2 linked regions of the Homo sapiens genome follow. The protein of the gene in region 1 interacts with the protein of each later gene in a pairwise test. Each region holds a gene or a part of one and is shown in the gene's direction. Other genes may lie near its edges.

The links. Proteins that work in one complex are often made in the same cells at the same time.
Region 2: the proteins of SPATA3 (region 1) and VWC2L interact in a two-hybrid assay, tested with the Homo sapiens proteins (one large-scale study listed by BioGRID).

The regions. Positions count from the first base shown.
Region 1 is NC_000002.12:230,997,781-231,003,394, forward strand, and holds part of SPATA3 (spermatogenesis-associated protein 3), read left to right. Parts: intron 1-2,585; coding exon 2,586-2,757; intron 2,758-4,850; coding exon of another isoform or gene 4,851-4,903; coding exon 4,904-5,009; coding exon of another isoform or gene 5,010-5,019; 3' UTR 5,020-5,047; intron 5,048-5,614.
Region 2 is NC_000002.12:214,417,554-214,421,053, forward strand, and holds part of VWC2L (von Willebrand factor C domain-containing protein 2-like isoform 1 precursor), read left to right. Parts: intron 1-3,500.

The DNA.
Region 1 (5,614 bases):
CTGGTTTATACTACTAACAATAATGGTGATAGCAAACTAACATTATCACTAAGCATTTACTGTGTACCTAGCATTCAGATCAGGTGTCTTAATTTTCACACGTGATAATCCTATAAAAGTTCTTCCATATTATCTCCATTTTATAGATGGGGAAACTGAGGCTCATAGGAGTCAAACAGGTTGCTCCTGAGCAGACGCTGGTAGCCCTGAGAAGGGAAACCCACTCTATTCTGACTCCAGAACCCTCACTTTAAACCACAGCACTGACCTTTCCATTCCAAGAGGCCTAGGAGTCTCCACAAGAGGAAGAACATCTCTGTCCGAGCATCTCCTGGATCTGCCATGAGCCAGTGCCCACGACTCCATAGCCTTGAACAGGCCACACTCCCTGGGCCACAGTTTACCCCCCGGGATTGTGTGGGCATAAAATAAATAAGTGATGGAGATGAGAGTGCTAAATATAAGGCATGCCATGCCAATGATCCTTCCATGGCCAGGAATCAAACCTTTCTTGACATATGATATTGATTTTGAGCACCATACTATATGTTGTAAAGATTGTGATCATCAGCCAGTGAGAGAAACATTTCTGGGTTATGATCTTCAGAACTGGCATCTTCAGTACTGGTAGAAAGCAAGACTTTCCATTCCCAAGTCTTTTAATGAACACATGTGACTCATACTCAGAGAAGAATTTGGCCCATTGAACAGGCAAAGCAAGAAAGCAAGAAATGGTGGTGGCTCGCCAGTGGTTACAGCAGACACCCTATACTTCTTCCAAAGGAATTCTCTGCGTAGAAAGGAATGTTGGAGATGAAGGATGAGGGCCTGCAAGTAAAGCGTGCCATTTTCTAAAATCCAAGCCTTTTTGTGTGCAGAAATATTGTAGCTCAAGAAAATGCCAGTCTTCCACTAGGATGGGTATAATCAGAAGGATGGACAATAACAAGTGTTGGTGAGGATGTAGAGAAGCTGGAATCCTCATACACTGTAGGCGGGAATGTAAAATGGTGCAGCTGCTGTGGAAACAGTCTGGTGGTTCCTCAGAGGAACATGAAGTTACCTTATGACCCAGCAATTCCACTTCTCAGTATACATCCAAGAGAATTCGAAGCATCTTATTAAGCATATTAGAAGCACACCAAAACTTGTACACAAATGCTCAAAGCAGCAGCATTTGTAATAGCCAAAAAGTGGGAACAACCCAAATGTCCATCAGCTGATGAATGGATAAACAAAATGTGGTATGAAATACCACAGTACAATGAGTATGGTGAAATACTATTTGGCAATAAAAAGAGATAGTGTCCTGATACATGGTACAGCCTGGATGAACCTTATAGACACTTGGCTAAGTGAAAGAATCCAGTCTCCCAGAAACCCACACATCGAATGATTCTATTTACATGAAATGTTCAGAATAGGCAAATGTATTGCCAGGGACTGGGGGAAATGGGAGAGTGGGGAGTAACTGCTCATGGAGATGGGGTTTCTTTTTGGGGAAATGAAGACGTTCTGAAATTAGTGGTGATGGCCACAAAACTTTGTGAATATACTAAAAACCACTGAGCACTCTAAAAGGGTGAATTTTATTGCCTGGGAATGATATCTCAATTTAAAAACTTTTTTGTAATTAAAAAAAAAGACAAGTCTTGCCTTTAGAATCCCCTCTCCTCATTCCGGGAAAGTACGTGTCGTGGGCAAGTCTAAGCAGAAAGTGTATTGAATCTGCCAGGTTGACCACCTGTTTCATGCAGCTTAGGGTCAGAAGAATCTGTAGCTCTGTCAAGAAGACGCAGGGCTACAGATAGGAAACAGGAGGGAATAATCCAGCCAGAAATTATCTTGCCCAACCACAGAGGGCATCATCTACATTCTGCTGGGATCCATACCAGAGGAGGACAGAAACAGAAAATAGGATCGGGACTGGAAACTAGAGCTGTGGTTGTCTTCTGGATGGATCAGAATGCTCTAGATCAATGGAACGTGGCAGCTCCAATTCCAGGAATGTCAGTGCAGCCTCTCCTGAGGTGAGCAGTCACCTGAAATTCCATTTTCACTGAATTAAACGTGAGAAAGCCTGAGTTGAGAAAGCCAACTTCTGTAATCTACTCCCCAAAAGGGCATATCCCTTAAATTAGCTGAGCCTCAGTTTCCTTATTTGTAAAACAAGACCAGCAGTATCCCCTTTACAGGATTACTGTGAAATTAAATGAGATGAGCATGCTAAGTGCAAAGCATCCTGAAGGTGTAAGCCATGGCACCATCAGCACCACCTCCATCATCATCATCGTTGTTGTCGTCGCTGTTGCTACTCCCAGGTAGCACCAGTATAAAACAGCCATTTTCCCATGCGGTCAGTCTTCTCTTCTGTTTGGTTAGAGAACATTTTGTGGGAGAACTGCCTTCCTTAGGTAGTTCAGTCCCAAATCCTCAATGATGCCTTGGAAAAAATCCAGCGTTCGCCCTGGTAATCCTGCAGCTGCTGCCGTTGTGGGGGGCCTTCTCAGACTGTGTTCCAGACTCCCCCGCCCCAGCCTCCCAGGGCAGGTGCCTCCCTCACCTCTCTCCTTCTGTCCCCACAGGGCCTCTGATTCGCGCCGGCCCGCATTCCTGCTCCTGTGCCACTTGCCCCTGCAGCTCCGCTTGCTGGCGTCGTCTGGGGCTATGCCATAGCCGCATCTTCGATGTCCTTCTGCCTCGGGACTGGCAGATGGCGCCAGGGAGAGGACTCCCCAACCTGCTCACCTTCTACAGGTTCCAAGCGCGAGGGGCTGGAGCCTCGGGGCACACAGTCCCCAGGGCCAGGCTCTGCCCCCAGACCTTATTAGCAATCATGTATCACTTCCTCTTGGGAATCCCAGGCCGAAGGAAAGCCTTTCTTTCCCTCTTTGCTTTGCCCACTTCCTGGACGTTGGCAGGCAGGGCCCTTTCTGACCGGCCCCACCCCCGGGGTACCCACCCCGCCTGTACAGAGAGGTGCCAGTTTTCTTCCTCACTGGGATTCCTCCTCAGGGGCTTCCTTTTTCTTTTCTCCAGAGATGCCCTCCCCTCCTCAGAACACTCTCCCCCTCAGCCCTTCACAGAGTCGCTCAGGAGCTTTGTGTTTAAACACTGTTTGGCCATGCACCTCCGTGGGCCCTCAGTGGCCTGTGTCATAGGCAGGGGCCTTAGGTTCCTGATCTGCCTACGAATGTCGCCCAGAATTTAATGATAAAAAACTACTTGTAACTCATATGCCTCCTCCACACAATAGCAAGACGTCAGCCCCCTTCAGACTGTGCTGGGCTCTTTCTGGGGGTCTCCACAGGGAACATCTGCCCCCAGGCTGGTCTGTTGGTGGCGGCCCCCATGACATCACCCATAGTATCTGTCCTTCCTTCCTCTTCCCAAAAAGCCACCAGGAGCAGTGTCATGGCTGCCACCGCCCTCATAGGAAGACCCCATCCATGCAGGGAACAGACTGGAGATGTTCCCACGTTTGGGCGCTGCTAGGTTACATGCATGGGCTGGGAGAGGGGTCGCCATCTGCCCCACCTGAGGGCCTCACAGATCTCAATGGAAGAGGCCCTTCCACTTGGCGACCTCACACCCCCACCCCAGGAACTGAGGCCCCCCAACCCCCATCCTTGTCCTGTTCCTCTTCCCAGCCTCTTCCCTACCCAATCCCCTCTCCTTTCTGGAGCTGAAAAACTCCATCTCTCCTACACATGGAGATAAGTAAATAGATACCGGGGCGTGTGGGGAGAACACGCTTGGAGCCAAAAATACTCCACCACCCAGTAAGCTCCGTCAAGGAAAGGTCTGCCTGCCACCGTTAGCCACACCCTGCCCACACGCTTAGTACTTCCATCCATCCATGGCCAAATCGTGCCATGGGTTCATATCGTTTTAAAACCAGCAAGTGTTATTGAGGGAAACTTACTATGCAGAGGACATGGGGCACTGTGAGGGAAACCAGAACAGGGAACTTTACCCCTAAAATTGTTGCAGTCGACATGGAGAGCTAAGACCCATGCATTTAGAAACCAAGATGCAAGATGCAAAGAGCCTTGTGTCCTCTAGGAGAGGCTCCAACAGGAACCTCTGAAAGGTTCCAACAGGAACAGGCTCCAACAGGAACCTCTGAAAGGTTCCTGTCAACAGCATGTGAGCCGAGTCCAGAAGGATCTTGAAGTCCTCTCTGGCTTAAGATGAAAAGCGGGAGCAATCTGGGTGCAGGAAAAGGCAAGCGTGAGGCTCAGAATCAGGAAAGTGAGCAGGGAGAGACAGGGTCCATATCTGGCCAGGGCAAGACATGTAGTTTTAATTCTGCTCCAATTTTAGCACTGGCATGCTTTTCTCAATGGAGTGTAATGTTGGCTCTTGGCTTTCAATCCACATTCACATTAAACAAGAATCCCTATTTTTGTAGGATTTTTATCAAAACGGGTATTGCATTTTTTGAATGCCCTCCTCACAATTATTGCCTTAGTCATGTTTTCCTTGCCTTTGTGTGGGTGTAATATATTATTTCCCAAGTTCCTTTCTCTCAATGGAGTGAAGTGATAGAACTTACCTCATAGGGTTGTTGTGAGGCTGGAAGAAGACACTGGGTGTGAGGTATTTAGCACAAGGCCTGGCTCACAGCAGACTTGACCACCTTCCTAACCTGGTCCCCTTCTGAGTGTTCAGGGCAGCTAGCATCCCAGGCCAGCTCACCCTCCGATCCTCAGGGGTCTTTCAGTAGGGACTTGTTGGAAGGATGGGAAGAATTAAATGCTCTCCTAAGAGGAGTTTGGAGAGGGGGAAGATGGGTATTCCTGCAATCCTGAGGGGGCCACATAATTTCCACTTTCTCCTGTTCGTAGAGAGGCACTGAAGCCCAGCTTCCCACCACCCCCACTTCTGCTTTGCTCTACAGAAAATCTTCAAGAAAACCCTCCAGTCATCGTAACGCGTGTCCTCCAAGCCCTCGGAACTGTGGCTGTGGCTCTGGGGGCTCTAGGAGCTGCCTACTACATCACTGAATCCTTGTGAACAAGCCCCTAGGCCCACAGTCTGGCAGGTATGTTGAGCGCTCTGTCCCTTCGAATGGAGGTGGTCTCTTCAGGTGGACCAAGCCCCGGCCTCTCAAGGGAAGCTTGCCAGTGGAGTGACTCCCTCCTGGCCTCAGGGTCAGCCGGCATGGCCCTCTAGGGAAGACCTGATGCTCTCAGATGACGCTAGACTCATTATTACAATCATCTAAACAGAGCCCCCACCTCCTCTGCCCCGGGATGGTGTCCCTGGTCATGGACCCTGGACAAGAGGAAATGGGAGGGATGGGGGCAAAGGTTTCTACCCATCTCGGACCTTTCTTGGAACTTTCTCCCTGCCTGGAAAGCTTGTCTCCTACCCAGTCCTACCAGTCCATCACCCATAAAGCCCCCTTCTTCCATGAAACCTTTCTCCATCTTCCCAACTTCAATGACGTCTTCCATCTTCTCAACCCCTGTCCTCTCCACCTGTGCCTCCTGTGTTGTGGATGATCCTGTCGTTTGCCTGTGGCCTGTCTCCCATCTGTCCTGCAAGACCCCTGAGGGCAAGGGGCATGGCTCATGCAGCCATCTTCCCTCATCCCTGGAAGCAGAGC
Region 2 (3,500 bases), about 17 Mb from region 1:
GACGAAACTGCCAGAGCAAAATCAGAGATTGGGATGAATACAGTCTGCAAAGAGGAGGGAGATGGGTATAATTGGAAGCTAGATATGACTAAAATGCTATCCTAGTAAGAGGCAAATTCAGATATGTGTCGGTGGAGAGTGGATGGAAGGGCCTTGAATACTGGGCCAAAATATTTAGATTCATCTGAAGAATAATAGGAAATAAAATGCGGATTGTTCTGTACATAGATGACCTAGTTAAACATAAATAAAAATGAATGTCCTATATCCAAGCACAGAATTGAATAGAAGTAAAGAGAAATTAATAGTGGAGGAAGGAAGTCTGTTGCAGAAAAAAAGAGAATGAGGTGCACAAGCACAAAGACATTCAGGACAGTTTTCAGGGTAAAATCTAATTTCCCTGCTGTAGCCTAGATTCTACTCATCAACCTCTCCAAATCCCTCAAACTCTTGGTGGCTTTTTTTCCCTGTGTGTTTGCACTGCTGTTCCACAGTATGGAACACTTTTTCAACATTGCTCCCTGTTTAAATCCTACTGGACCACTTCAAGGCTCCATTTAAATCTCACCTCAACTGGAAACCCCTCTCTGTCTGTCCTACCTCATATCTCCCACACTGTATCACTCCTTCCGTATGTTCCCACGGCCTGCTATACACACCATCACTACAAGAACAGTAACTGTTGTCTGATACTGTGAAGAGCTTTATGTATATTATAACACATTTTATTTTACAATAACACTGTGAGAATTATACTTTTATTAGCACTGTTTTACGGATAAGAAAACTGAAGCAGCAGAGTGTAAGTAACTTGTCCAAGACCATACAGCTGGAAAGAGGAAAAAGTAGGACTCCAAGCCAGGCAGCTTGACTGCAGAATCTAAGCTCCTCACCACTTCTAGTGATCTACCCCACAGCAATAATGTAATACATCACACTGCAATAATATTAAATCATGTAAAATATAATATGAAATAATATCATATGAAACCACTCGTCTCTTCCATTAGTCATTGAACCCTTCGAGGCTAGCGACACTGTTTTCTTTTTTCTTTTCCCCTCTATTCCCAACACCGTGTGAGCTATGTAACAGTCATTTAATACCTTTTTTGATGAATAGCATACCAGGTCAAATTGTAATCAAACCTATAGGATAAAGAAGTTAGAATTTCTTTAGAATGATTTAGTTTCTGTTTATGTGTTGATCTCTTCATTTTAATTAAAGAAGCACTGAAAGTTGAGACAAAAAATGCTCTTTGGGCAGTTAAAATGGCACACATTGTTCTCTTATGATAAGACTGCCTATTTTCGTCCTGCCTTTACTTTCTTCCTCTCTCAACCCCTTCCTCACCAAGGGTTGTCTTGGATTCTGTCTCCATCCCAGCATCGCAATGACTACCCAGTGTTTTAGCTGTACTGTCTCACCCTATGCAGTTGCAAATCATAGGTCACACTTCAATATTTTCTGATCACCAAATTCAAATGTAAATTGATCCACATGTGTCACCTGATAGGAAAACTGATGTCATTTATAAAGGTTGTGGGATTTTTGTGGGGTTTTTATTTCATTTACTGATGCAAGCTTTGAAAATGAATTTCTCTCTATTCTTTTTGAAAACTCTAAATTCTCCAGGGTTCTGGTAATATTGTATTAAGATAAAGGTCACTGTATAGTAGGTTCTCTCATCTTTCTTTTATGTGCACCCCGGCAATATGACACTGGAACCTACTTTTTGAGAAATAAAGCATATAAATAATACATTATAATAGCAGTTTCTACCAGAAAAAGTTTATTGGAAATGTAGGCTTAACTATCTTAATGCTGAGTTTCTCAAAGGAAGAAATAATTTCTTATTTTGCTCAGTATTTTTATAACTCTGATTCTGCTAGAATTAGCTTTTTTGACTATTTCCTTATACTTTAGAACTTGTACTGATTTAGTTGTAGGTCATACACTGAAGGTTATACTACATGTAGCTGAAAGAAACCTTTCAGCTTTTGCATAGCTTGTTTTATTTTAAAGTGATTTTCTGCAGCCAATTCCCAGTGTCCCTAATTCAGGATTTGGATTTGCCCAAGATCAGTGCCCTGCTGACACTGACCTTTGTGTTTTTCCCACTATGGGCCAAAGACAGTGGACCAGGTCTCTGAATTCTATATTCGAAAGGTGCGGTGTGAATATTTTTTCAAGTCAAATGTCTTATGGGTTTGTTGTTGCTTTTATAAAAATGAGCCTGTTTTCAGGATGCCAAGTTTTTGCCCTGAATTTTATACTTAATATTTAAATCTCAAGAGAATAAAAGGGGACCCGCCTGGCCAACATGGTGAAACCCTGCCTCTACTAAAAATACAAAAATTAGCTGGGTGTGGTGGCGGGCACCTCTAGTCCCAGCTACTCGGGAGGCTGAGGCAGGAGAATCGCTGGAACCTGGGAGGTGGAGGCTGCAGTGAGCAGAGATTGCGCCACTGCACTCCAGCCTGGGCAACAGAAGGAGACTCTGTTCCAAAAAAAGAAATAAGAAAATTAAGCCGTGGGATTATTTTGCCAAGTCATCACACTCATAAAAATTGTTGATGCCAATTTGGATTTAGAATTGATTTGCCCTTTAATGGGTATATTCACACAGAGACAAAAATTTCAACCTTCTCATTAATAGGTGCCACATTGTTAATGTCCAATATTGTAAAATTAAATCTGTAAAAACGTTTGAGTGGGAAGAATTTTGGAATTCAGGTTTGGGAGAGTCATTTGACGTCTAGTTGTTTTTTTAATATGGAGAAGAAAATGGAAGGCAACATGTTCTAGGAGCTGAGGACCAGACTTATGAAAGAACAGGGAAAACCAGAGGCTGTAGAGATATCTCAGTTGAGGGGACTAACAGGTAGGTAACACTTTGCACAGCACAATTCACTGCCCCTTGCCTACTTACCCACCTGCCATTGCACGAGTGTCTATGAAAAGCACAGGAACTAAGTCAGATGTTTACACAAGGCAAAGGAGTACAAAAAGCATATATATGAAGTATGAAGCCTGTATTTATTTTAATAACAGAGAAATCAGTGGATTATGAGAATAGAGGTGCAGTTTTTAAAGAGTTTTATACAAAAGAGGGTTTTCATTTCTCAACAAATGGGTAGTGGAGTCACCAGGGGCATTTTTAAGATACTATCCCAAGAAAGAACTAGAAAGCATCATGATTTTATGCGGCAAAGATAATTGGGGATCTTTGTAGAGAGGTTGAGAAGATTAATTCCATAATTATTGGCTCTGCAAAATGCAGTTTCTGTTTTGCAGAGCATGTTGTGGCTTTTAACATTAAAATGGCTTTGAGTGAGTTAAAAGGAATGCCTTCCCCTTTCAAGTTGCTACAAAATAACAGTGATTGAGACCTTACAATTGCTTATCTGAGGCTCAGCCTCAGCATGCAGAATGAGTGGGTTCAAAGTGGATATTCTCAATGGGGGATTCCCATCTTCGTAAGTAACTGGGGAACCTTTAC